Homo sapiens: one gene and its partners. The protein of the gene in region 3 interacts with the protein of the main gene of each other region in a pairwise test. Each region holds a gene or a part of one and is shown on either strand. Other genes may lie near its edges. The genes, in order: PARVG, ZNF524, SERTAD2 and HELLS.

Evidence for each region.
Region 1: the proteins of SERTAD2 (region 3) and PARVG interact in binary tests that used the Homo sapiens proteins (3 or more experiments, as listed by UniProt).
Region 2: the proteins of SERTAD2 (region 3) and ZNF524 interact in binary tests that used the Homo sapiens proteins (3 or more experiments, as listed by UniProt).
Region 4: the proteins of SERTAD2 (region 3) and HELLS interact in binary tests that used the Homo sapiens proteins (3 or more experiments, as listed by UniProt).

Annotation. Positions count from the first base shown.
Region 1 is NC_000022.11:44,190,924-44,197,945, forward strand, and holds part of PARVG (gamma-parvin), read left to right. Parts: intron 1-1,125; coding exon 1,126-1,181; intron 1,182-2,877; coding exon 2,878-2,900; intron 2,901-5,231; coding exon 5,232-5,290; intron 5,291-5,423; coding exon 5,424-5,492; intron 5,493-7,022. UniProt on the Homo sapiens protein: Plays a role with ILK in promoting the cell adhesion and spreading of leukocytes.
Region 2 is NC_000019.10:55,595,719-55,603,299, reverse strand, and holds ZNF524 (zinc finger protein 524), read right to left. Parts: upstream 3,013-7,581; 5' UTR 2,892-3,012; intron 1,226-2,891; coding exon of another isoform or gene 1,188-1,225; coding exon 393-1,187; 3' UTR 162-392; downstream 1-161. Other genes in the region: FIZ1 (flt3-interacting zinc finger protein 1), read left to right, coding at 5,435-5,728.
Region 3 is NC_000002.12:64,650,903-64,658,373, forward strand, and holds the start of SERTAD2 (SERTA domain-containing protein 2), read right to left. Parts: upstream 3,012-7,471; 5' UTR 2,718-3,011; intron 1-2,717. Other genes in the region: uncharacterized protein LOC124907776, read left to right, coding at 3,378-3,809. UniProt on the Homo sapiens protein: Acts at E2F-responsive promoters as coregulator to integrate signals provided by PHD- and/or bromodomain-containing transcription factors.
Region 4 is NC_000010.11:94,569,782-94,576,803, reverse strand, and holds part of HELLS (lymphoid-specific helicase), read right to left. Parts: exon of another isoform or gene 5,417-7,022; coding exon 5,375-5,416; exon of another isoform or gene 2,845-5,374; coding exon 2,617-2,844; intron 2,251-2,616; coding exon 2,068-2,250; intron 143-2,067; coding exon 1-142. UniProt on the Homo sapiens protein: Plays an essential role in normal development and survival. Involved in regulation of the expansion or survival of lymphoid cells. Required for de novo or maintenance DNA methylation. May control silencing of the imprinted CDKN1C gene through DNA methylation.

The DNA of each region.
Region 1 (7,022 bases), on a different chromosome or scaffold from region 3:
AGCAGAGGGCATCTGGCTGGCAGAGGCTGAGGCCAGGGGCTGTCAGGCCATATCCCTGAGCCATGCGTGGCCGTCCGTTCATTGCCACGGGGAGCCTTCACGCCCTGAGCAAAACCAATGCTCTCACCATGAGGGTACTGTCTCCTGTGAGATTACCGATGGCTGTGACAGTGCCCTGTTCTCTTTCTAGGAACCTTGCCGGGTTTCCCCACCCTCAGATGTTCTGTCTAGCATGCGGCCTGCCTGTGCTGCGGTTAATACCCAGGAATCCACGACTTCCCTCTCCAGACAGACTCTGAGCATCACAATAGGGGGCCCCACCAGCTCTTTGCTTCTCATGACCGCCCCCACCCCACCCCAGCCTCGGGTCCCTCATGCATAGGGGCTTTGTGTGTGAGGGCTTGCCTCTGACTCGCCCCAAGAGAATAAGCCAAGTTTGGCCACACCCAGTCAGAGTCATTTCTATTTTTTTTTTTTTTTTTTTTTTTTTTTGAGATGGCGTCTTGCTCTATTGCTCAGGCTGGAATGCAGTGGTACAATCTTGGCTCACTGCAACTTCTGCCTCTCCAGCTCAAGTGATCCTCCCACCTCAGCCTCCCAAGTAGCTGGGACTACAGATTTGAGACACTGTGCCTGGCTAATTTTTTGTATTTTTGGCAGAGATGGGGTTTCACCGTGTTGCCCAGGCTGGTCTTGAACTCCTGAGCTCAAGCCATCCACCTGTCTTAGTCTCCTAAAGTGCTGGGATTACAGGCGTGAGCCACCACACCCGGCTTTCTACTGTTTTTTAAAACCATTGATTATAATTCCCTACCAAGCAGTTGTGTGGCTTGGTCTATACTGCCAACATAAATCAGAAGTGACTTCATTGATTCACTCCTTCACCATTCATTTGTTCATAGTCACATGCTCATTGATACTGCCCTCCTCCCACTGTGAGACTCTGGGGATGCCTTGGGGAGTGAGGCAGACACATCCCCAACCTCAAGACTCCTGGGGAAGAAAGACAATTAAGCCAGAGGCTGTCCTGAGGAGGGATGATACAGAGCAAACGGATCACTGGGGCTTCTTTGGGCCCCAGAGTTTTCTGGATTATTTAATTTCTTCCCCCTTTATTTTTCTTAGAGCACCAAAAGTGGTCTGAAGTCAGAGAAGTTGGTGGAACAGCTCACTGAATACAGGTGAGGGAAGGATGAGGGCCCATGGGTGGGGCTGGGGCTCACAGCGGTGGATGGGGGCAGGGTGGGGGCCAGGGCAGATCTGCCTGACCTTTGTGGGAAGGGCCCTCACATTCTGTGGCTTTCTCTCAGACCCGAAAATGCTGCGCTGACCTCTCAATCCCACGGCAGCACACAGGACCCCTTTCTAGCCTCCAACCAGGTCCCTGCCTGGCCCCTCCCAGCCACCCTGCTTTGTTTTCTAGGGTGGGGGCCCCTGGGTTTGGGGTACAGGGCCCAGTGAATCTGTCTCTCTAGTGTGAGCAGGATGTTCCTCTTTCCTTGCAAAGCTGTAAGAGTTAGAGGCCCCTGCATGGCCAGGGGCTGGCCGTCTTGCTGCCTGCCCACTTTAGGGTGTGACTGTCTTGTTCCCCGCCCACTTTGGGGGTGTGGCTGTCTTACTCCCCACCCACTGGGGGGTGTGGCCATCCTGCTCCCTGCCCACTGGGGCATGGCCATCCTGTTCCCTGCCCTCTGGGGAGTGGCCATCCTACCTCCTGCCCACTGGGCATGGCCACCTGCTCCCCACCTACTGGGGTTGACCATCCTGCTCCCTGCCCACTGGGGCTGGCCATACTGCTCCCTGCCCACCGGGGGTGTGGCCATCCTGCTCCCTGCCCACTGGGGCTGGCCATACTGTTCCCCACCCACTAGGGCTGGCCATCTTGCTCCCCGCCCACTGGGAGCATGGCTGTCCTGCTCCCCATGGAGCAGAACAGGTGGGGCCTGGAGAGGGATGGGCCCAGGGGCTGCACAGGCTGCCAACAGGTCCACCGTTGCTGGCTTCTGTGTGGCGCTAACTCACGATCTCTCACAGGGATGCAGCCAAGATGCTGGCCAGGTGGGGCTGCCATCCTCTGAAGGCTTGGCTGGGGCTGGAGCTGTGTGGACAGCACATGGTGTCTGTCTCTCCTGGCAGCCTTGGCCTCTGTGCTGAGCCCAGGTCTCTGTCACAGGCTGCTGGGCTCTGCCCCGTGGGCCCCAGCTTTCTTCTGGAGGGCTGTGGTTAGAGAGACTTGGCCTGCCCTGGACCTACAGAACTTCTCTTCTATGGGGTAGAGGTGGATCTAAAAACGTGACCAAAAAAAAAAGAAGAAGAAAAATTGTTCAAAAACAATAAAAATGGAGTGAAAGAAGCCAGACCCAAAAGAGGACACGCAGTATGGTTTCATTTCCATGAACTTCCAGGACAGGCAAAACCAACAGATGGCAAGAGAAATCGCAGCTGTGGTCAGCGTAGGGAGGGAGAGGATGGAAGGGAGAACACGGGGGGTGCTGGGAGGTTCTGCAGCATGTAAGTGGGGGTGATCACACAGGTGTGTATGTGTAAAACGCACAAGCTGTGAGCTTACGATTTGTGCACTTTATGATGTGTGTGATGTATCTCCCTCAGAACAGAACACGAACAACAAAACCAGCAAAGTCCAAATGTTTCTAGGTGTGGAAGCCTCAGGGAAGGGCATGAACCTGTTTCTGCCCTTTGCTTCCCACAAAGACCTTCTCTGCTATCTGCCCTACCTACAAAGCTGCCAGGAAAACCACAAGCATGCCAGTTTCTTTGCAACCTTGCCAGCACTGAGGCTTGTCATATTGAGAAATTGTAGGTTTGCGGGGTGTTTTTTTTTTAACCATTTGTTTGCTTTTTCCACCCACTGCACAGCACAGACAAGGACGAGCCTCCAAGTGAGTACTTTCATCATTTTTGGAAATCTGTTCCTATCTGATGCGTGTTAATGCAGACAAGTCTTAATGCAGGGTTAATTGCTGAGCATTCTCTCATTTCCCTGTCACTTGCTGTTTGTATCTCAAGCCTCATTCTTATTCATTTGTCCCTCTTTCTGTCTGTCCATCCATGGAGCTGGCTGCTCCTTCTCATGATACTGTTCCTGTGGGGAGAGAGATTTATAATTCACATGGGCAGTGATGGTGGAGTCTGTTAAATGTGTGGGCTCTGGAGTCAGTGGCCTGGGTTCAAACACCAGTGTTCCCACTCATTAGCCACTTAAGTTTGGGCAAGTATCTTAACTTGTCCGTGCCTCAGTTTCCTCATCTATAAAAGGGCACTCACCTTTTAAACTGGCAGTGAGGGTTAAAGGAGATAATGTATGAGTGTGTTCAGCATGTGGGCAGTGCTCAATAGTGAGTGGGCAATAATGTGGCTTCTGCTCTTCTGACAGAGCTGTTCACCAATCAGTTGATTGTTCTAGTTGTTACTTCTTTCATGCATCCATTCCTTTGTCACTGGTCTGGCCAGCTCTTCCCCTTCCCATCCATTAATCTATTTATCCATCTATTGATCCATCCTTTCTTCCATTCATCTATCTACTTACCCACTTATCCACCCACCCACCTATCCATCCATCCATTCATACACCCATGCATCCATCAACCCATTCTTCCATTCATCTATCCACCCACCCATCCATTTATCCATCCCTCCATCCATCCATTCATGCCTCCATTCATCCATCCACCTACCCATCCATCACCTGTCCATCCATCCATCCACCTATCCATCCATCAACCTATCCATCCATCCATCCATCCATCCACCCACCCACCTATCCACGCATTCATCCATCCATCCATCCCTCCATCCATCCATTCATGCTTCCATTCATCCATCCGCCTACCCATCCATCATCTATCCATCCATCCATCCATACACCCACCTATCCATATATTCATCCATCCATCCATCCATCTATCCATCCATCCACCCACACACCTATCCATCCATCCATTCATCTATCCACCTACCCACCTATTCATCCACCCATTCATCTATCTACCCATCCAACCACCTATGTATTCACCCATATCCATCCATCCTAACACTATTTTTCCTCCCTATACCCTCCCCACTTAGACACATAGCTATGTGGGCAGGGATGCTATGAGGGGCACCTTCCCTGCAGAGGTAGAGATAATAACCTGCCAGGAGCTTCTGAGAATGGGGGCTGAGGAAGGCGGAGTTTGGGGAGAAAGGAGAAAGGAGGGGCAAGGAGGGCTGGCTGAGGATCTGTGTATGTAGCAGGAGGGGCAGCCTGAGGACATGAGGGGTTGCCCAGGGAGCAGTATTTTGGGCAGGGGGCAGCATGAGAAGTGGGTGTCAGAGGGTGAAGAAAGGACACAGAGCAGGGGCATTTTAACGTGCATGATGCTATTTGGTGCTACTTTTCCCCCTTCACTAACAAGGGAACTGAAACAGAGAGAGGTGCTGTGACTTGCTTAGAGTCACACAGCTGCTGAGTGGCAGAAGCCACAGCAAACTCAGGCCAGTCTGTGTATTTGGTGCCCAAGGACCAGTGTCCCCATGGGAGGTATGTTAGCTGCAAATAGCAGGAATCCAGCTAGTGCACAAAGGGCATTAGCCTGAGGACATGGGCACCCGAGGCTGGACCCCAGGGCCTGAGCCGCTGTTCCCAGACCCCAAGGGAGTGACTGAGTTGCTGAAGAGCTGGCCTTTTGCAGGCAGCAGGTTCAGACACTCTTGGGGGCGGGGGGAGGCAGCAGGGAGCAGTCCTCACTCAGCCAATTTAAAACCAAGGGGAGGAGACTCATGGACCCTGATCACCCACCTGTGGCAGCTCCCGTGGCCCTGGGGAGTGGAGTAGGGCCCTGGGAGGAGGGAGTGCCAGCTGGCAGATAAAGGGATGCAGCTGTGCAGATGTAGTAACAGGTGTCAGCTGCAGGAAGAGTGGCTGTTTATGAAGTCCTACTGTGTGCCCAGTCACTGTGCCATGGGGCCATGTGTGTTATCTGCTATGGAATTCCATCTCTGCAACAACCCCAGCTAGGGAGGCACAGAGAGAGACGGTGACTCCCCTGGGGCCACACGGCCAGGAGAGCAGTGACTCAAATCCAGGTCTGTTTTATTTGAGAACCATGATGTAAAACGACAGCTCCCTCTGGACTGGTTATTCTAAGAAACTTTTGTGAAAAAAAAAATTCCCTGTTTGGCACAAAGATAATAGCATCGTAATGAGGTGTTTATTGGATCTGTGTCTGCAGAGGACGTCTTTGATGAATTATTTAAGCTGGCTCCGGAGAAAGTGAACGCAGTGAAAGAGGTAGGAGAGATCAAAGCTCTCAGCGGCTCTCAGGCTGCCCACCCCACCCACTGCCCACCTGCGCTGTAGGAGGGAATCACGGGTCCTCCCATCACACCTGCTGTGTGCTAGGCCCTTGTTCTTCCCTGGTTAGGCCATCGTGAACTTTGTCAACCAGAAGCTGGACCGCCTGGGCCTGTCTGTGCAGAATCTGGACACCCAGGTAGGGACTGAGCTGCGGCGTCCCCAGGCAGGGCAGGGCCACTGGCCGTAGGAAGGAAAGAGGGTTCTGCAGGCCCTGGGAACCTGCTGTGTGGTGGGGGTTGCATCACCTCTTGGAGCCTTAGGGTCCCCCTCCCCGGTGGGACTGTTGCTGGCAGGCAGCAGTGGTCACCAGGGACATGGTGGGATCCCGGGGGTGGAGGTGTGGGAACACTTCACAAAGCTGGAGTCACCTCGGCTGTCACTGCTTCTCATTGTTATAATTTTATTTTATAATTAATCTCAGACTAGCTGATGCCAAGACTTGAAGCATATGAGTCTTCCCTGCGTGGTTGTGTTCGCCCAAACAGAATTTATTAGATTTGTCCCATGTGCCAGGCGTAGGTGACAGCGCAGCCCAGCCGTCTGCAGGCTCCATGTCTCTCACAAGCACCCTGAGGAGCCCAGCCCCTCCCCCGGCTGACTTAAGTCGAATTTTCCCAGGAGCAGGAGCAGAATCTCAGGGGGTCAGCACCCACCATGGGCTGTGGCTTTCCACAGTGAAGCTGTGTCCCTGTAGGCTTCCCACACTGCAGGGGAGCAGGGGGTGCACAGTAGCAGACCGGCTGCCAGCCCGGGGCCTGCAGAGTGGGCATGGAGTCTGCTGGATGCCAGTGGCCTGAATGGGACATGACGTAGGCATCTGGCCACCTGGGTTCTGCTGGGTGCTGGGGTCTGGGGTGGGGAGGGAGTCTGGTCCCAGATGGACCAGTTGGCTCATGAAGATCGTAGCCAGAGCTGCTGACCTCTCAGAGAGACTCTGGATGGGCATTGGCTGGGGAGGGAGGGGTTAATGTACTCCCATGCCTAGTAGCTAAAACCAATAAAGCCCTCACTATGTGCCAGTCCCAGGGCAAAATGCTTTCCATGTTAACTCATTGAATCCTCTCCATAATCCTCTGAAGTGGGAACTGTACTACCCCACTTACAGAGGAGGATGTTAAGGCACAGAGAGGTTAATTAACTTGTCTAAAGTCACACAGTGATAAGTAGTGGACCTGGGATTTGAACCCAGGCAGCTGGGGCCAGAGTTAGTGCTTATAACCACCTCACATGGTGGCCACGTGAGAAGTTTGTGTGTGATATGGTGTGGCAGCATGGCAGGGTGGAAGTATCACGCTCTGTAGCCAGACAGACACACATTTCCCTCCTGCCTCCACCACTTATGGGCCCTGGGGTCTGCTGAGAACCCTCCACATTTGCTGTGTGACCTTGGGTGAGTTACTGGACTTCTCTGAACCTCAGGCTCTTCTTCTTATAAAGTGGGTACAAGATAGCAACTTGGTAGAATTGTGAGTGATACATGAGCTGGTGAGCCCCACGTGTTTGGTATATTACCTGGCACGCTGCCGGCATGAAATAAGTGAGAGATTTGTAGTTTTATTATATTTTATGTGGGTATAAACAGGATGATTTCTGAGATTTACATTCTACCTGTTCTATCTGTATCTCTCCCTTGGTAAAATAATGGGTTTCAGAGACTCATGGCATG
Region 2 (7,581 bases), on a different chromosome or scaffold from region 3:
AAGGTTCCCCCCAAAACCATTCTTTGGCGAGCACCACGCTCATGAGGCACAGGAAGTGGGGTCCTCTCCAATTCCCCGCACTCCCGACAGGACGGTGTAGCCGAGGAAGAACATTTGAAGGCAGGAGAGGATGGCATCCCGGCACGGAACACACACAGGCAGCCAGCAGGCAGAGATTTATTTCCACAGCCCCTGCCTCCAAGGGTCTGTTAGTCTGGGGGAGGGGGGCTGAAGGCAGCTGGACCCCAAAGTTTAGGTCTCCACCCTCCACCTGCTCCCACAACGGGAAGACCACCGGAAACAAGGGTGTCCCGGCCCCCTGGCTCAGGCCCAGCACCAGCCAAACTCCCTGCTCTAAACCTGGCCCAGGGAGCGATGGCCGGGGGTGTGGGTCAGGCCGGCTCCCCTTTCCCCTCTGTCTCCTCCTCCTCCTCGGCCCCTGCTGTGGCCGGGATGCCCTCCTCGTCCCACGGCGGTTCAGACCCTGGATCTGGTGCACACAGGGGTACCCCCATGGCCTCCGGGTGCTTGCGCTTCGCATGGCGCCGGAGCGTGTTGGCCTCTGTAAAGCGCAGCCGGCAGATGGGGCACTGGTACGGGCGCTCCCCCGAGTGCACGCGGTGGTGGTGCGCCAGCTCGCCCGCCTCGCGGAAGCGGCGGGGGCACAGCGGGCAGCGGAAGGGCCGCAGGCCGGCATGGATGTTGCAGTGCCGCCGCAGGTGGCTGGAGCGCTTGAAGGTCTTGCCGCAAACCTTGCACTGGTGCGGCTTCAGCTCTGAGTGCGAGATGCTGTGGCGCTCCAGGTCGGAGAGGTAGGGGAAGGCCCGCAGGCACACCGGGCAGAAGTGTGGGGCCTTCCTGGGGCCAGAGCCCTCAGGCCCAGCCGCTGAACCTTCAGAGACCGTATAGGGCACACCCTGATCATCGATCAGGAGGAGGTCGCTCCCGCCACTGCTGCCTACTGGGGCTGTCACCCCCTGCACCTGCACCAGTGGGGGCTCCTGCCCTGACTTGGGGGGGCGGCCCCGCTTGCGAGGGAGGGAGGCCTTGAGTGTCCGATTTGAGGAGGTGGCTCCCCCAGGACGACGGCCTCGGCGGCCCCGGGGAACAGGAGGAGATAAGGCCAGAGGTTTCTCTTCCTCCCCGGGCAAAGGCGAAGGCAACGGGTCTGGGCTGGGGGTGTCCATTGAGCAGTGGGGGGCTTGGGTCTGGGCACTGGAGCCAGCTAAGAGGAGAGAGGGGCAGAGTCAGTGCTCACAGGGTCTAGAGCACCCCTGTGTCCCCCAACACCTCGCCCATCCCTCTCTCCAAGTCTCTTGACAAAGGTGTGTTTGACATTCATCCAGATACACAATTTTAGCTATGCTGGTGGGTAAAACAGTGAGATGATCTTGTATCAGCTGATAAACAGGCACTTCCCTGAGCTCCACCAGACATCCCTATGCCTCCCTAACTCTCCTTCTGGATCTAGAAGTTCAAGATCAACATGAGCAACACCCCTCCCCACCTCCCCACAAAAAAAAACCTTCCAGAGAGGATAGAGTCCAACTGAGAGTGCAGACCAGTATTGTGATCCTTGAAACGGAGAGCCCATCAAACTCCAGAGCCATAGAGGCCTCACGAATGCTCTCATCCCTCCCTGCTGACTGGCAGAAGTGGGGAAGGGGTTCCAGAGTGGAAAAAAGGGACTGGTCCCAGGTGATATTTGACCCTGATTCCTGGATGAGGAAACATATCTGCGATGTTAAGAGCCTGGGCCCTGGAGTCAAGACATCATTCGTTCAAATCTTTACTCTCTGCGTGGCCTTGGGCAAGGTGTTCGCTTCTCTAAGCCTTAATCAAGACTTTTGCAAAATGGGACACATAGTTCTACGTACTTGCCCAGACATGCCATGAGCATAATACCCACAAAGTGTTCATACACAGAAGCTTTCAGGACACATTAGCCATTGTTATCAGGAGCAGCTAAGCCTCACATCAACCCTCTGAATAGGGCATATCTGTCCCATTTTGCAGATGGGGAAACTGAGGCACAGGAAAGCCAAGTCAGTTGCCTAAGTTCCTCTGCCAGTAAATGGCAGGGCCAAAACTGGAAACAGGTCTTGTGACCCGAATGTCCCAGAGAATGGAGAACAAATAAACCCAAGGAGGAAAGGGGACATTACGAGGGCTCAGTCCTGGGTTTGAATTCAGCTCTGCCTATAACTAGCAATTGACTTTGCCAGTTTCCTCCTCTGAAAAGTGAATAAACCAGGGTTGTCAGGAGAATCGAATAAGACAGTGGGCTTTAAAATGCCCCTCGAACACTGCCTGGTGCACAGTAAGCACTCAATAAACTTCACCAACGCCACCACCATCTTCCCGGCGCCCACTCAGATACTGGGAGCATGGGATTGGGGTGTAACGGAGGGGAAGGGGAGGCACAGGTGCAGCTGGAAGCAGGTGCTGCAGGTGCCCCCCTGCACCCCCCCCTCCCCTTTAACAGCCACATAGACTGCTGTCCAGAGAGGAGCAACCACCTTTCCATACGGTTCGCTCCCACGGGGTAGCCTAGTCTAGGAGTCTGGTCTTTGGAACGGTGGAAAGGGGGAGACTGGTCCCCCGACCCTCCCCGTCCCCTCGCCCCGGTACTGACGCGCCCATCGGCCCCCGAGCTGCGAAGCCCAAGCGCGGGGCGGGCCCTGCGGGGGCGACGGCCAATGAGCGGCGCCGGGTAAGCGGGCGGCGGGGGCTGCCAGGAAGGGGGTCTGCGCGCGCGCGCCCGGACGGCTTCGCGGGGCGCGAGCGCGGGAGCAGGAACAGGTGTTGGAGGCGCGCTCCGGGAGCGCGCGGCCCGGCCTCCCCTACCCCCACACCCCCCCTCCCGCCTGCGCCCCCCGCCTCTCGGGTACCTCATTTGCATGTCGCCGGGGCTCGCGAGTGTGCGCGCGCGCGGGGGCAACGGGGCCGGCGCGTGGGAAGGGGAGGGGGTGAGGGGGCCCTGCCCCTCGGCGGCGGCGAGGCGGGGGCGGCGGCGCGCGGTGCCGGCCCCGCCCCTCGGAGAAGCGCCGGGCCCCTCCCTTCCTGCCCTTCCCGCCCGCCTGCGCGCCCGCGGGAAACAAAGGGGACTCGCTGGGTCCTAACGACCGGTCGCGGCCACGCCCGGAAGCCGCGCCTGCGCACCGGCGGCCCTGGTGTGTCCCCAGTGGGAAATAACCCAGCACCACATCCCCAACCACCTCGAAACGCCTTTCCTCTCACAAAGCCCACAGTCGGGTGACCCAAAGACAGATACCGAATGATGAGGAGCGGGAAAATGGCTGCCCAGTGCCCGTAATTAACATGGCACCGGACAGGCTTCGAAGCCCATGGAGTGCTAAGTGGATAAGATGGTGCCGGTCTTTTCCAGCTCTGTATTGCAGTTGGCGCACTTCGCTTTCTTTTTTTTTCCCTAGTCCAACTGTACATCCTAATCGGAGGAGTCCGAGGCTGTGAAAAAGAAATAGTATCTGCTCTCATTTACGTTAGCATCGCCTAGTGTCGCCACGGAGAAGCCCCCTCGCTCTCAGCTCCTTGCCCTTAGTCTGTATGGCGCCGTGGGTGTCCCTAAGCCCCGCCCCTTCCCGCTGCCCTCACCCAAGATGGCGCGGGCCTGGCTTCTTCAACCTCCAGGGCTGGGAAAGGAAAGGGAAAGAGGGAGAAGGGCGGGGATGAGGAAGGGGAGCCAAGAGGGCGGGAGAAAGGGGGAGTACGGCGGGGGAAGGGAGCTGAGGCGGAAGTCGAGGGGCCCCCCGGGTGGAAGTGACGCTGCCCCCGCTGCCCAAAATGTCGGCGCCCAGAGGGAGGTGTAAGTAATTAAAGAGGAAAGCCGACGGACTTCCCCGGCCTCCCGGGGCCGCCCCGGGTCTCCAGGACCAACGCTCCGTACGAGCGAGGTGGACTCGCCTGGCCCCGGGGCCTGCCCGACCTGCCCCCCAACCGGGCGCCCAGGGCTGCACCTTTTAGGGGCAGGGGGAGGGGCACAAAAGGCCGGCTCTCGGGGCCTGGGGCCTGGAGCAGACTGGGCAAGTGGGGGGGCCCGCTCCTCAGGCTGCGGGGTGGAGGAGGAGGCGGGGCCTAGTGGCTGCTGGGGCGGAGCAAGGGCTGGGAGGAGCCTGAGTTGGGCGGAGCTTAGAGTGGAAGTGGGAGGGGCGTGGAGGAGGGAGAGTCTGGATAGAAAATGGGAGGGTCTTAGGCAAAGAGGTGGGGTTTGATAAAGGGGCGTGGCTCAGAAGGAATGGTGGGTAGGCCCTGGATTGAGGGGTGGAAGGAAACTCATTGAGGCTGGTTGGGTAAAGGGAGCCCAGGAAGCAGGAGGGAGGAGTTTAGAGTAGAAGGGATGGAGTTTGTCTGGGGTGTGGCTTAGAGAAGTAGGTAGGCCTAGTGAGGGGGGTGGAGTTTAAGGGTGTAATTTGGAGGGGTTTAATGCAACTATCAGGTCTTTATAATGAATGTGGAAAGGACTTGCAGGGGATGGGAATAGACTTCGTAGAGAAGGCCTGAGAAGGTGACGGGAGTCCAGTGGAGAGTCTTAGAAAGGATGTGGCTTCTTTAAAGGAAAAATTGGGTGGAGTTTTGGAAGTGGGTCTTAGTGGACCCGAGAGGGGCTTAGATAAGTCAAATAACTTAGCAATCATGGTAGGACTTAAGGAGGAATCCAGGAGGAACTTACGGGATAATAGTCATCCAAACAGCTTACTTGTTGCGTCTTTGCTGTGCACCAGCTTAAGTGGGCACGTAGCATTTATTGCCACAATTTTACTTAATTCTCGCCACCACTCCATGAGGTAGGTACTACTATTCCCATTTTACAGATGAAGAATTTTTATTATCTGATGTTACAGGAGTAATTCTGGTCTCCCTGCAAGGATGACTCCAGTGTGCTTAGCCCCAAATCTTTGCCCTCCCATTCGCTAAGTGGTCATCCTGGAAGAGGAGTGGGAGGAGCTTAGAGGGGAGTGGGAGGGCCTTTTGGAAGGAAAAGGGCTTGGCAAAGAATACAAGATCCTTAGGGAACATTGTGGGGGACTTTGAAGGGAGTAGGTGGGACTTAAGGAAGAGTGGGAGAGGCTTAAATTACAGTGGGAGGGGCACAGAGAGCAGTGGCCGCGCATTGGCGAAGAGCGAGGAGAGGCTTAAAAACACTCCGTGGAGTGAGGAGACTATGAAGTGATTAGGAAGATTTTGCCACAGGCGTGGAGCCGCGAGAGAAGGGTTTCTAAGAGAGTAGGAGGATTTTAAAGAACAATGAGAGTGGCTTAGAGAGGTGGGCAGTGGGAGGGTCTCCCAGGGGACAGGTGGTGGGTCTGGGAACCTGGGAGGAGAGAGCTGATGGGGAGCCGACCCCCTCACCTGCTCCTCTGTCTCCCCACTACTCCAGAGAGAGCCCCCACATACCACTGTATTCCCCGCCACCATGGATGACGTCCCCGCCCCAACCCCTGCACCAGCACCGCCCGCCGCTGCCGCCCCCAGGGTCCCGTTTCACTGCAGTGAATGTGGCAAGAGCTTCCGCTACCGCTCAGACCTGCGGCGCCACTTTGCCCGGCACACAGCGCTCAAGCCCCACGCATGTCCGCGCTGCGGCAAGGGTTTCAAGCACAGCTTCAACCTAGCCAACCACCTGCGCTCGCACACCGGGGAGCGGCCCTACCGCTGCTCTGCCTGCCCCAAGGGGTTCCGCGACTCCACCGGCCTGCTGCACCACCAGGTGAGTCCCACAGGCCGGCCCTAGGCTGGCCTCCCTGGTCAGGACTACGGTGGGATCCCGCGCCCCACTGTACTCTGGGCAAAAGGAAGCTGGCCCAAGGCCTAGGCGCCCGCCTCCTCCCATTAGAAAATGTCCCTCCCTCCCTACCAAAGCACCCTGACCCTTGAAAGCATGCGCTATTTCTCATTCAGTCACCAGCAACCCACGAACTGGAACATTCATAGTAAATTTCCCCATCTATAGGCTCCTGCCCGCCCCATCTCCCTGCCAATACCCCGCGTGCACGCACCAGCATCTGCAATCTAGTGTTTATCCTTTCCTTCCTTACCGTTTTAAGACTTAGGTTTATCAGGTGTATACTTAATTCCTTTATTCATTGATTATCAGTTATATACTTAATTCCTTTATTCATTGACTATCAGCTTTCCCTGCACCAAACGGCTGTGTTGCCAAGGCAAAAGCAAATTCCATGCCTTCAGAAAACTTACTTTCTTTTGGAGGTGGTCAGTAGCCAAGTAGACAAGAAGCAAGAAAGCAAGTATGCTGGCAAGAATGTTCTGGAAAAAGATAGGAGGGAAATTTTAAGAAACAAAAAAATACTGGCCAGGCGCAGTGGCTCACACCTGTAATCCCAGCACTTTGGGAGGCCGAGGTGGGCAGATCATGAGGTCAAGAGATCGAGACCATCCTGGACAACATGGTGAAACTCTGTCTCTACTAAAAATACAAAAATTAGCCAGGCGTGTTGGCATGCACCTGTAATCCCAGCTACTTGGGAGGCTGAGGCAGGAGAATCGCCTGGACCCGGGAGGCAGAGGTTGCAGTGAGGTGAGATTGCACCATTGCACTCTAACCTGGGCGACAGAGCGAGACTCAGTCTCCAAACAAACAAACAAACAAAAAATACAAATCAATGTGTGAGAGTAAAGAGAGGAGAGCTATGGGCTACTTCAGACAGGTGGGGAAGGTTAGGGCAGGTGATACCTGAGCCAACCTGCAGTGTGAGGAATCCTCCCTGGGAAGAGCATTCCAGGCAGCAGGAACAGCAAGTGCAAAGGCCCTGAGGAAGGAAGGAGTGTGCTGTGTTCCAGGAAGCGATGGGAGACTGTGGGGTTGGGGTGGAAGGAGGTAAGGTGAAAGATGGGACGGGCTAGGTCACACTCTGTCTATGTGCCAGACACTTGCACAACCAGGGTGAAGAAAACCAGGCATCTACCGATGGTCTTTCACACTTGGCTGTCCTCTCTGTCCCCATGCATCTGCCTTGGTTCAGGACTTCACATCCTGAATGTTGGCCCCGGCTTTCTCAGTGGTCTCCCTCCTTCCTGTCTCTCTCCCTCACATCCAGTCTCTGCATCTATCACAGAGTGACCAGGTGACCCCTGCTTAAATCCCTTGATCCTTAGGATGAAAGGGGAGCTCCTTAGCTTGATGCAACAATTGACAGTCCCCTGAGGGGCCTCACCCCCACCCACCAGTAGGTTGTGATTCAACTGAACCATTTCAGGAGCACCTACTGTATTTAGATACAGTGCTAGGCTCTCTGGGGGAAAAAAAATAGCTAAGGGAACAAAACAGATACAGTCCACCCTTTGTATGGCCTCGAGTCAAATGTGGGAGATGTGAACTGAACAACTAGGTTAATCAATGTTAGGCTGCAGCCGAGACATCTGAGGATGGAGGATAACCATATTCTGAGGCTAATGCAAGAGAGAGCTGAAGCAGTCTGGATCGGGGATGGGGTCAGGGATGGTTTTCCCGAGAAAAAGGTGAGGAATGATCTGCCTCTGGGGTCCGAGGCTTTCCGGATCCAGGGAACAAAATGTGTACTTTCAAGGAAGCAAAGCAGGCTT
Region 3 (7,471 bases):
TCAGTACACAACTGATCTTTGGACTCAGTAATCAGAGACGGCGCCTGCGCTTGCTCTCTCTCTCACGCACCAAGTAACTATTGCAACTAGAGCTATCTCCTATAGGATATGCCATGACAGTGAATACAAAATTTCTGTTGCCAAGAAGCTTTAAAAATTCTATGAGTGAATTAAAGTTCATGGCCCCAAATACGCCTATCTATATATAGCTTTTTCCACAGGTAATATTGACAAAGTGGTCTTGATTCTGTTGATATATGTGAAATATAAAATAAAGCTTCATACTTTTTTTTCTGTGCTTTTTAACAAGAAACCACAGCAAAAGAAACCTCTCAAAGTTTCTGTTCCAGCTTTCACCTTTCTTAGTTACTAAAATGTAAAATATTTTGTCTGAGGGTAAACTTGTAGTATAATTGGACACTGATAATAAAAGTAGCATGCTGCAAGTTGATAGAAATTTTTATGTATTTGCATTCGAACATCTTCAAACTGCCTTCATACGTTTTGTAATGTTTTTTGTGTGTGATGCATGTGTGTGCCTTTCTAAAGTAGTGTTGTAACTTACTCTGCCATTGGAACCCTGTTTAAAATAGCAGATACCATAAGCTATCAGTCGCCACACAAATTTGAATGAGTTTTAAAATATCAAAATATGTGCTATTTTACTAGGCTCATTATCAGTAATAATTCAGTGTGTAGCAACTGGGCAAAATTCATATTTTAGCTTCTCAATTAAATAGAAAAGCTTTAAAGAGGGACAATTCAGCAAACAGAAGTGTAAAGATTTTCTAAATCTGAATTAATATCCTTCTCTTAGTTCTTCAAGGGAAACAAGCTTGAGCAGCTGTTACCTAAGACGCTGTGACATTCGCCTGACAATAAAACCGTTCCCTAGGACACCTCCTGTCACACATACACTTGGTTGGCTTTACAAAATGTGAGTCCTCTCCCTTACCTGTCTGAATGAAGTAAGGAAAAGGGCCGGGTGTTAAGGAAAAAGGGGGTTGGGGGATGTCAAATCCAAAATAAGATTTCTCATCTGAGAACAACATGGTTATGTATATTTTAATTAGGGGGTGAAACAAGTAAAAAAAAAAAACTGTTAAAGGATTCCAAACTTAATGAACGACATAAACAATTTTATATTAACATATAATACCCCTCTAAAGAAGTCAATGAAGCTAAAGGAAAACTTTTAAACATTTGTCTCTTTTAAATAAAAAGAAAAAAAACCCTGAAAAAATAAACAGAAAAGCAGAGATCCACAAACAAACTATTCTTGTTCACTCCAGAAGTTGGGATCTTAGGATGGATATTTTCATCTTCACAGCACACCCTAGCACACTCATATCAGAATAGACTGCTATAAAAAGGGGGAGGGATGGGAGCTGCCAGGGTGAGACATGCCTTCTGCTGAGCTGAGCAACTACCCCCAACCCCCATCGGCCAAGCAGCCCAGACGCTCTCAGGTGGACGGTCCTTCAGGGGCGGAGCGAAGCCCAAAGCCCACTTCACTCTTGTCAGGGACTAGTCTCTAACTACAAAAAGCTACTGTGAACACTTAGGGCCTCAGGAATCCTGGTGACTACAACTTCTAGCCTCTTTACACACATTATGGATATTTCTTAACATACATTGGGAAATCAAAAAGCGTATTTCATGAACAAAGCTTGAAAACATGTACTCTCTACCCTAAGCCCAACTGAGGCTGCCCAATTCGATTCAAATAAAAACTGCTGTGGTCTGAGGCTGGCTGTCTCACTCTGCTGACTGTCCTCCCCATTCAGTGTCTGTGAAAACTTACTTTCTACCTCCTGAAACGACTCGGCTTGCAAGCAAAAAGTTATTCCAATGCAAACTATACCTGATATTTTCGTGAAACTTAGAAACTAAACCTAAAACTCGACTCCCATCGCAATCTATTACTACCACTTCTGCTAAAGGTAACTTATAGCCAAGAAAACAAAACAAAATACGATTTTCTGTCCATGTAGTGGCCCTGTGACGACACCCCCTCTCTTACTGGTACAAAGTCTAGGGCTTGGGACAGCTGGCTCCCCTCAGCCCCCTCCCTTTCAGTCATAGGCGGTTACCACGAAGATGACTTGTAGATTTCTAACTTAAAAACCAACGAGACGTTAAGTTTAATATACATGTAGATCCCAAATCAATTCATTTGGGCATGGACGAAAGAAAAGAGGGTGGAGAGGAAGGTTTTCAACATTATTAAAAAAAACACCGGGAAATTCACAAAAACGCACTACAGTAAGTTGGATGCAAACCCGGCCACGGAACTCAAAAGTGAAGCAGCCTTCGCGCCAGCAATCCGAGCCTTAAAAAAAGTCTCGCACGTTCACAACAACACAACCGCCACAACGCGCACACACATCCCAGCTGTAGAGGCGACAGCTCCAGGCGCCCCCGCCCGCCGCTCGGCTCTCCGAGCTCCCGACCCCCTCCTGACCCCGGCCCTGCCCCCCAGCGGCTCAGCCCGCAGGCGCCGGGGGTCCGAGAGCGCGGGGCCCGGACCGGGGCCGCGGGAGGGAGCGCTCCTCCCGTACCTGCTCCGTCCCCGGCTCCCTCCCGCGGCGGCGCCCGGCCCCTCCTCCGCCCTCCGGGCTCTCCCAGCCCTGGCCGAGTCCCAACACCGGCCCCCCATCCACCCGGAGCCCCCCGCGCCCGCGGATCCCCTCCAGCCCGACGCCGGGAGAACTTACCACATGCAGCTCCACCTGGGAACTAACGCATCAGGAGGGGTTTCCGCCCACTCCTCAGCTACTCCCGCTCCATGCGGAGTGCCCCGCTCCAGGGGCCCGAGGGTGGCGCCGGGGAGCGGGCAGCAGGCGAGGCTGAAGCTAAGACTCCGCCGTTCTCTGCCTGCGCGCCCCGAGCATTATACAATGGTGGAGGCGGCGGCGGCAGGCAGCGGAGGAGGAAGCAGGAGGCGGGCGGAGGGGGCGCCCTGACCGAGCGAGCGGTACGTCGTGCTCCAGCACTCGCCGTGCAGGAGTGACGTGCGGCCCGCGAGCCTCCCGCGAGCTCCGGGCCCCGGCGCCGCAGGCCCCGCCCCTGGCCGCCCGACCCCGCCCCCGCCGGCCCCGCCCCGGCCCGCCTCTCCCCGGCGGTCCCGGGAGGCGCGATAAAGGCCGGGGCCGGCCGCGGCCGGCCGCGGCCGCAGGAGGAGCAGGAAGGGGCGGCGGGGCGCAGTGGGCGCCTGGTGGCAGCGCCGCCCCCAGCTCCCTGCCGGGCCGGCGCGCCCCTGATTTTCTCGTAAGGACGGGCTGAAAGAGGAGGGGAGACAGAAGGAGACACTCCGGCCCGAGGACCACCACTGCCACTAGTAACGCCCCCTACACACTCTAGAAGTGCTCAGGCGAATGACGAAGCGGCTGGTGACAAAGGCGGCGGCGAGTGCAGCGCGTGCACAGCCCGCGGAGCCGCGCGACCGCAAATATGACAAGCATTTGAGCTATTTGGCAACGTGGGGCCGGTCAGCGGGGCGGGCAGGGTCCCCGCGGGGGGCGAGGGGCAGAGAGCTGGCCCGGGCGCCCGTCTCGCTGCCTGCAGGGGTTCCTGGGCGGGGGTCCGCTGCGGGACACTCCTCCGAGGCCCGCACTGGTCCGAACGGCAGGATGGGGGCTCCAGCCGTGAGCCGGGGACAGAAAAAGTCCCTTGCCCGCGTGGCCTCAGCCCGACACGAGAAGTGGGTCACCAAGTCCACGGCACTTTGGGAGCCGGACCGAACGAGTTGCATCCTTCGGGGCCGGCCGGGGCTCGGTGCAGACCCGGCAGGAGGGAAGCCAAGCTAGGAGACGCAGCCAGGTCGGAGGCGCAGTCCTCTGCCCACAAGTTTCACATTGATAGCCTTTCCCTCCCGTGGAGTAAGCTTATGCTTGGAACTACTTAAATTTACCAGGGAAATTTATACTAGTTGGAAGAGAATGTGTGTATGCCCAAATGGTGAGAATTTAAGAGCACTAGGGAAAGAGGCCAGATAGATGGTTCCACTGGAAAATTAATGATTATTTTAAAAATTACACGTGCATTCAGCGTCAAGATGTAAAAGGCAATGCAGGCAGGCACCTTAAAATTTTGGCTGCCACCCCAATCAATATCATTTCAGATCACTTTGGAGTTTAATGGTCCACTATACTAGTTGTATTTAAGAATAATAAAGCTTTAAGACCTAACATAAAGGCGATTGTAAGTCGTTAACATCAAGAGAAATTTAGACTTGTTTAAACTGTTCTGTAATGATTTGTTATCAATCAAATTGATGATCTCATCGAAATTAAACTTGTGCTGAAATGTTGATAGAGGAGACAACGCTTCTTGTTTTATCTTTAAGGAGGATGGAAAAGGTTTTTACTGGACCCTCAGTATAATTAAAGTCTTATACAGTATAACCTAAGCCAAAAGCTAATTATTTGTGGATATCTTTGCAAAGTCTCATTATAATGGCATTCAAAATGACATATTATGGAAGCTGTGCTCACCGGCCCTCTGCAGGTCTTGCTCAGTTTGCGCCTGAGTGGCATAACATTCAAACATTTTGCTGTGAAGCGAAGATATTTTTCATTTCCAGAGTTCTGCAGTTTAGAGAGGGCATTAACTACTAACAGTTTCCTAACCACCCACTCACTTATACTTTCAGTGCTCACTTTAAGGAAAAGCCATTGAAATAGAAGCTGCAATAATCTCTTCCTGTGATATCTTTGTAGAGGAGGCCAGAGGCATTAGCTCTGTTGAATTTAAGGTGAATTTAAACTGCTATTTGTGAATTTAAACTGCTATTCTTGAATTAAAGTAAGCAGGAAGTTACACTTGCAGAACTTTTGTGACACTTGGATATTTTCTAGCAAATAGATTACACCAAATGCAGTGTTTCTGTATAAAATAACAGGATTTAAGTCAAAGTGACAATTTTGTGTCACTAGGATAGACAGGATTCTGCTGAAGTCCATAAGGTCTGTATTCTGTACCTGCTCAAACAAAGGTTTGCGCTCTTAACGAGACCAGCAACCTGCGTTTTTGGAGTGAAATAGTTTCCATCTCTTTATACCTCTGAAGGCTGTAACATCTTATCAATGTACACATTACAAATAGCTCCCACTTCCCCCACTTTTAGAATCTGGCATCTTTGACCAAGAAGTTAAAGTGAGCTGGCAGTTTCAACAGCTGCCAATGTGGTTAACACCAGCTGGTTAACCCTCTCCCTCCCCTTATGCAACCCCCTACCCCAAGGCTGAGCCACACATAGGCCAGGACAGCAATCTCTACCCAGCCCTAGAAATTCAAGTCTATGAGGATAAGGAAAGGCACTTTCCACACTTCTGAAGTCAGCTCCCTTCAGTATGCAATGACATGATTTGAAATATTTATTCAATAAAATATTATTTCAAATCATGTCATTGAATAAGCAGTGTTTAGTGAATATGTAAATTTTGTTCTCACTCTTTGGGAGATTTAAAAGCCCATTTAAGGGCTGGGTGCAGTGGCTCACACCTGTAATCCCAGCAATTTGGGAGGCCTAGATAGAAGGATCACTTGAGGCCAGGAGTTGACCATTCTGGCCAACATAGCGACACCCCCATCGCCACAAAAAATGAAAAAATCAGCCCTGCATGGTGATGCATGCCTATAGTCTTAGCTACTAAGGAGGCTGAGATGGGAGGATTGTTTGAGCCCAGGAGTTCAAGGTTGCAGTGAGCAATGACCACACCACTGCATTCCAATGTAGGTGAGATCTTGTCTCAAAACAAAATCCCATTTAAAATAATCCTACTCTGAGGGCCTCATCCAGAATTTAGAAGATCTGCCTCTCACTTTCATATAACATAACTTTAGAACAGTTATAAGAAATTAGGCTAGTCATCCACATTTAACTACCAGGAACATATCTGTTTAGGGAGAAAAGAAACATTTCTTTTATAAGTATAGAACTGTGATGGTAAATTTTAAAAATGCTCCTGAGTTTAATTTCAGAGAAGTACTTCTCGGCATCATTTTGTAGTTCTGGGTACTAGTTTACACTTCACTGCTTCTCCTTTGAAAGTTTCTGTGCCCTCACATCTTATAGACTAGTACACTAGTGCACTAACTGAAGGCCACTTTTGGCACTTAATTAGCACACACCAAAAACACAAGGGGCAAACTGGGTATATAAACTGAGAAACAAAGACTTTACAACAGGTTTTGAACTTAATTTCATTTTTCCTTTGCTTTTATTAAATTTTTATCTTTCAGGTTCCACCTGAAATGCCAGTAATGATCATCCATCTATATACCTTGCAAATATTGGTCTTGGTTTTATGGCAAAAAAGATAAATGTTTCAGTTATTAAATGAATTGTATAGAGCCAGCTAGGCTAAATAAGCTTTTCATGGAAAATACGGAGATCCTAACTGTGGACTCATCATTCGGATAAATGAATATTGGAATAAGTCTTCAAAATAAAGTTCTGGAAGTCACATCACCTAACTGATTAGCAAGGAGTCAATAGAGGATACAATGATTTGGAAAAGTAAATACTCTCGCAAAGATGGCACAGGCAGATTCAGTCCTTTTCAGCCACTAACAATTTAAAACAATTCTATTGAAGCAGCAAGTGAACTCCTCTACTTCTGCAAACTTTTCTCCATCTCTTCTTCCACCTGCTTTTGTCATGGTTTTTTTCTGCTCCTCCCTGAAGTCACAATTCATAAAAGCAGAACTACAGCTCCAGTGAAGGCCCCTTTGCAAAGCTTTCCATGTTGTTACATTGAACTGCTTTGCAACGACTGCTTCTTACCTTCTGAGGGAGGTTTCACTTGTCTGTTAAAGATATACCTTTTTCTCTTTTAAAAATCTGACAATATGTAAATCTAAACCTGAAACACAATCTTCATGGCAATATTTAAAGAAAATGCTTTTAAAACCATTTCCTTTTTTTCTAGCACTTGGGGTCAGTCCCTTCGAACTATTACTGGAGAAGATGGCTTCTGTTAGGCATCAGCTTCCTTCCTATTCCATTTTCCACTGAATCTTCAAAAGCCTTGTGCAGTCTATCAAAATGCAAAGAACCTTCTTGGTGACTCTGACAACTCCAGGGTTCCCTCCTGTAGGGACACTACTCCACTAAGACTGGTGGTCACTTCTCAGAAACATCTCCCATCCCCAGCTCCCTACACAACACACATTGCCTCTACGCATCGACTATGTATTTATTCCTGTCTATAAGCCATCCATCATTCTTGAGAAGTTCCCACTCTTCTCAAGGCACTGAGCACACTTCTAGCTTCCACAGAAAATTTCAATGAATGTTAGAAATTGCACAGACCTTTCTTGCCCCCAGGAACCAGCCTGGTGACAGGAAAAGTCCTGGACTAGGAGTTTGAAGATCTTGTACACATTAATTACTTAACCATGATAAATCTATGACTTTTTAGTTTCTTAATTGACTGGTCACGGATTTAGGATCAGCACCAGTTCT
Region 4 (7,022 bases), on a different chromosome or scaffold from region 3:
GTAACGCATTTCGGTCTCTCATGGCTATTTCAAATGACGTGATTACCACAGGATGAATCTGCAAAGTCCCTTTCCGTTTGTAAATATTTCTTACCAATTTTTGACGTTCCTCCTGGGTTCCATGATATAACATTGTAGGGATCTGAAAAATTTTATATTGATTTTTATCAGACTTAAGAACAAAATGTAAATATTGACTATTTAGAAAATATAAATCATTCTGAGGGAAAAAATATAATTTTAAAAAATTTTATTTCTATTTTTCTATAGCAAAATAAGCCAAGCAATTCTAACAAATCATTGAACTATTATGGGAGAAAATGAAAAAAAAACAAACAAAAAAACAAAGTCAGGCCCAGCACAATGGCTCACACCTATAATCTCAACACTTTGGGAAGCCAAGGCAAGCCGATCTCTAAAGTCCAGTAGTTCGAGATCAACCTGAGCAACATGGAGAAATCCCATCTCTACAAAAAATACAAAAATTAGCTGGTGTGGTGGTACGCACCCGTAGTGCCAGCTACTCACCCAGTGGAGTGAGATGGGAGGTTCACATGAGCTACTCAGGCGTGTGAGATAGCAGGCTCACATGAGCCTGGGAGGTGAAGGCCACAGTGAGCCAGAATGACGCCACTGCACTCCAGCCTGAGCAACAGAGCAACATCCTGTCTGAAGACAAAAAAAAAGGCATAAAAACAAATAGACGGGCCAGGTGGGATGGCTCATACCTGTAATCCCCAGCACTTTGGGAAGCTGAGGCGGGCAGACCACCTGAGGTCGGGAGTTCCAGACCAGCCTGACCAACATGGAGAAACCCCGTCACTACTAAAAATACAAAATTAGCCAGGCGTGGTGGCGCACGCCCGTAATCCCAGCTACCTGGGAGGCTGAGACAGGAGAATCGCTTGAACCCGGGAGGCGGAGGTTGCACTGAGCCGAGATCGTGCCATTGCACTCCAGCCTGGGCAACAACAGTGAAACTCTGTCATACACACACACACACACACACACACACACACACACACACACACAAACACAACCCCCCCCCCAACAAAAAACCTACAAATACATAAAACACATATAGGCTGGGCGCAGTGGCTCACACCTGTAATCCCACCACTGTGGGAGGCCAAGGTGGGCGGATCACAAGGTCAGGAGATAGAGGCCATCTTGGCCAACATGGTGAAATCCTGTCTCTACCAAAATACAAAAAATTAGCCTGGCCTTGTGGTGTGCGCCTGTAGTCCCAGCTACTACACTCCAGCATGGTGACAGAGACAGACTCCATTTCAAAATAAATAAATAAATAATATATATATAAATATATAAAATGAGACAGATGGTGATACTACGTCTAGAATATATATATTTCTCATAAGGCAAAAATGTGCAGAAGGGCTGGGCCCGGGAGGTACAGTGGCTCACGTCTATAATCCCAGTACTTTGAGAGGCCAAAGTGGGCAGATCTCTTCAGGCCAGGAGTTCAAGACCAGCCTGGCCAACATGGCAAGACATCGTCTCTACTAAAAACATAAAATTAGCTGGGCATGGTGGCACATGCTTGTAATCCCAGCTACTCCGGTGGCTCAGGCACAAGAATTGCTTCATCATGGGAGGCAGAGATTGCAGTGAACCAAGACTGCATCACTGCCCTCCAGCCTGGGTAACAGAGACTCCATTTCAAAAAAAAAAAAAAAAAAAAAAATTGCAGAAGGTAACAAGTACAGAAAAAACAGAAAACTCTCTTCTTAGCCTTTTGGCAAAGATCAAGTGAAGAACAAGCAGAATTTTTAATAAAATCTCTACCTAAGTCTGTCTCAGTCGAATCAAATTACCAATGCACTGAAAATCATTCAGGAATATTTTAGGAAAGATGTCAGGGATTTCCAAAACCTATACTATATAAATTTAAATTAGGGTATTGTGCAGATTGAGTAAGTCAAATCAGACAAAATATTTATACAGAAACCAATATAATTATAAGAGTTCTACAATTTAATTCCTACTACAACAAAGCATAAGAAAACATGTAAAATTATAATTTTAACATAAGGAAGCATGTCTTACATCTGGTGTAAATCTTTTGAATTCAGCCATCCAGTTAGGAAGTGTAGACAAAGGGCCACAGACAAGAAAAGGTCCTGGTACTCCTCTCTGAATCATCAATGCAATAGTAGCAATGCACTGAACTGTCTTACCCAATCCCATTTCATCTGCTAAAATGCCATTAATTCCATTTTCCCAAAGCATCTGGACAAAATAATAGATACTGTATTTAAACTTGGATATAAACAACTACAGGATTACAATATTTTATTTCTTCTCTTTAAAAAATCACACCCAAAGATGAGAATTATGTTAAAGCTGATATATTCACACCATAAATTATAACAACACTGGAAAGTCCTTTATCAAAGCCATAAAAGTGCTGGAAGCCATTAACAAGGTAATTTCTACTTCTAAAAATTCAGGGTAAAGAAATCAGAAAGCAAGTATCCACATACAAATGTATAATAGTGAAACATGATAGAAATGACTCAAGTTGTGGTACCTCAAATCATTAGGCTACTATAGAAATAAAACCAGTATCTTGTATTAAAAATTCCAATTCATTACCCTAAGCCATTCCATGCCTTCTACTTGGTACCATCGCATCACTCCTCCAGTGAAGTGCTTTGGTTGTTGAAAAGGTACTGGCTGACCATTACACTTCCGGACTGGGTCAAAAAAGAATTTAGTATTCTGCCTAACCGTTTCAGACAATCTATCTTTAATTATACTATTCGAATCTTTATTTTTCTGAAGATCTTCCACACAGAGATTAGTAGAGGAGGAGTTTTCATCCTGTAGAGAAAAAAAGTTTAATAAGATGTGTTATACAAAATGCTGCTGTATGCCACCATTTATCAGAAAATGCAACTAACAAAATCTACTGAGTCCTATAATCATTAAGTATAGAAGACTAAGATCACACCTGGATTAAAAAACTGGAGACATCGCCATCCCTCTACAAATGAAAAGCTACTAAAAAAAAAAATAACAGGCTGCCACAGTGGCTAATCCTACAATCACAGCACTTTGGGAAGCTGAGGCAGGAGGATCACCTGAGTCCAGGTATCCAAGACAACCCTGGACAACATGGCGAAACCCTGTGTCTACTAAAAATACAAAAAATTAGCTGGGTGTGGTTGCACGCAACTGCCTGTATCCCAGCTACTCGGGAGGCTGAGGATCACTTAAACCCAGGAAGTCAAGGCTGCAGTGAGCCATGAACACAGCCACTGCACTCCAGCCTGGGTGACAGAAGACTCCATCTCAAAAAATAAAATAAAATAAAATAAAATAAAATATAAAAATCTGAGAATAACCCTTACAAATTAAAATCAGGCACATACTTTTGAAAAGATCATTAGAATTGTATCTCTCTTCCAAACTTCTAATATTGTGATACTCAATAATTTATTAAACTGTTACACAGAAAATACAGTACGCATAAATAAGACGGGCAAAAGATATTAACAGATACTTTACAAAAGAAAACATACAGGCCGGGCATGGTGGCTCACGCCTGTAATCCCAGCATTTTGGGAGGCCAAGGCAGGCAGATCATGAGGTCAAGTGATCAAAACCATCCTGGCCAAAATGGTGACACACTGTCTCTACTAAAAATACAAAAATTAGCTGAACATGGTGGCATGAGCCTGTTGTCCCAGCTACTTGGGAGGCTGAGGCAGGAGAATCGCTTGAACCTGGGAGGCAGAGTTTACAGTGAGCCGAGATCGTGCCATTGCACTCCAGCCTGGGCGACAGAGTGACACTCCATCTCAAAAAAGAAAAAAAAAGAAAGAAAACATAGTTATCAAAGAACATAAAAATATACTCTACTTCAGTAGTAATTAGGAAAATGCAAGTTAAAAACCACACAAGTTACCATTTCTCATCTAATAAAATGGCTGAAATTAAAAAGACTATCAAATGCTGACAATAATGTAAGCTGGAGTTTTCAAACATTGCTGGCGAGAGAATAAAATGATGTGTTTACTTTGGGGGGGAAAATCTGTACTTTCTTATGAACACACATTTGCCACGTAACACAACAATACCATTCCCAGGTACACAGGCAGAAAGTATGAAAACATGTCTACACATGGACTTGTGTGCAAATTATCATAGCAACCTTACTCATAAAAGTCACAAACTGCAAACAACCCAAATGCCCATCAATAAGGGGATGGATGAGAAAATTGTAACATTCATTCAACAGAATACTAGTCAATAAGAAGAAACCGGTTACTAATATGCTCAACAACATAAATGAGTATCACAGACATGTTGAGTGGAAAGGAAATAATAAGCCATCCTATAAAAGGTGTAAAAAGTGGCCTCCTCTGGGTTTGGGGGTGGAAAGACATAGAAGAGATCCCTTTACAATGGAAATGTTCTATACCTTGATTTGGATGGTGGTTACACAAGTGTATGCAAGTGTCGAAATTCATTAAAATACCATACTTAACAACTATTTCTTACTGACTGTAAGTTATAAAATGAAGCCAAAATCCCATAGTAAATTACAGAAGATTACATCTAGACTTTATCTTAAAAATCCAACTAAATGTTTATCTAACTAAATCTTTAAAAATCCAACTAAACTGCACCCATAAACCAGTCCTTAATAACTTAACAAAGAATAAAAACCAAGACACTTTTACAATATAAATTTTGGACAAAATTATATGACCAAATAGATTATCTCTCATTTTATAAACATAACATTAATTTCCCAAAGGCCTAAAAATCTTTAATATGTAAATTAACTACCTGAAGTTCATATCCATTCATGAATATTTTCATGTCATGATTATTTTGCTTCCCTAGGCAACCTTGTAATTTTAAGTACTTGAACAATAAAAAGTCAGATAACAAGGAACCTCTCTACATGAAATGGGCTAAGTGAAGAGGTGGCTCGGAAATCAAGCCTTCTCAAACAGAACTTTTAAGAAACTTAAAAAATCTTTAAGGTCTGAAGCAAGATTAAGGCATCCCTCACAGCTTCCATAAGATGATTCACGGTTTATATCCACATGGTTACGAGCACTTGTATCACTGCCAGATTCACAAGTTAAAAGCAACATTGCTAGACCCATAAATTAACATTTATACATCAAGAATCATGCAATAAAACAACTAACTAAAGTTGATACATAAAAAAGAAGAATGTTGGATATGGAAGAAGTGAATACATAGGTATTTTTTTTTAAAGCAAAGAAACAGGATAATAGTGAGAAGAACGTATACTGCTGATTAAAGAAAAAGGACTAGTAACTGAGGAGTAAATATGACTTCTAAACTTAATCTTACATTATAAATTTCTTACCTCATTCTCCTTTTTATTTTTTTTAGCCACAGACAAAATTTCCTAGTAGTTTGAGAAAACAAAAACAAATTAATAATGTATGAAGTTCATTTATTTATTTATTCAACAAGCATTTATTCTGTGCTCATTTTGCCAGGAAATGAGGATGAGATTCTCAAGATAAAACTAGTAGCCTTCAGGCAGAAATAAGCCTATAGACATTACTGGCTCATAATATTTCATAACATTCTAGGCTAATTTGGGAACACTTATACAATGGGATATTTCATCAAATACAGTGATTTTCCAGCTTTTCTTTCTTTTAATCTGAGTAGATTAAGTACAAATTCACACATGGCAACAAACCTCTAGTCCTGGGGTCAGCAAACTACAGCCTGTAGACCAACTCCAGCTAAGCGAATACACAGGTATTTTTTTAAAAGCAAAGAAATGGGATAAATTGGAACAAAGTCAGCCTCACTTGTTTACGGTTTGTCTATGGCTGCTTTCAAGCAACAACAGCAGAGTACAGGGTTGAGTAGTTGCCCACAAAACTACTCAAAAGCTAAAAATATTTACTATCTGGCTATTTACAGAAAAAGTTTGCCAAACCATGTTACAGCCCACTTTAGGCCTCTGTGGATAGACATCTGAGTTTGCATTCCTGGGTAAGAGGCAAAGACAGAAAAAATTAAAAATACAGAATAAAGTGCTCTGATTTTGAAGTACCTACTAGATGCTGCTGGTAGGGAGACAAACAATACCCGAGTATGTCACTGGATGACTTAGCAAATAATTATCTTACATAAAATTATCTAAAAAGTTGTCACCAGGCTTCATCATTCAAGATAGTGAGGGTAGATTTCAAGCAGAGAGAATATAGAAGGCATAGGGGATGAAGTAGATTCAAAACAGCAATATCAAATTTAAGATTCATAGAAGAGTAACAGGACATGTAAGTGGCTGACACACACACATATATATACATGGGAATATATGTATATCGTGTGTGTATGAAGTATTATGTATGTATAGATATTCATATTATAAGGCTGAGGCTAAAAGGATTTTATACCAGGAACTGATAAAAGCTGTCCTGTAAAATGACTAGATAAAATGAAACTTTTGAAAGAACAATTTGGAAATAAATCAAAATCTATAAATACCACCAATGAAGTATTCTTATTAAAAATCAAGCATGGGCAACATGGTGAGATCCCATCTCTACAAAAAATATAAATGTTGGCTGGGCTTGGTGGTACACGCCTGTAGTCCCAGCTACTCAGGAGGATGAGGTGGGAGGATTGCTTGAGCCCAGCAATCAGAGGTTCAATGAGCCGAGATGGCACCACTGCACTCCACCCTGGGCAACAGAGAAAGATCTTGTCTCCCAAAAAAAAATAAAAATAAAAAAAAAAATAAAAAAACACCTTAATCACAAACTTCCGTATTTAACTTATAGTTACTATAGTTAACAGGAAACACAAGAGGCAGAGAAATCATGGGGATACAATCAGTAAAGTCTAGAATGTGGGGAATTATACAGAATTACTCATTTTCTTCAACAAATAATGTTTCTTAAAAAAGATGAGAGACACTCTAGATCTAAAAGAGACCCAAGATACGCATTAATCAAACACAATTTATGTAACTTTTTCGGATCCTGATT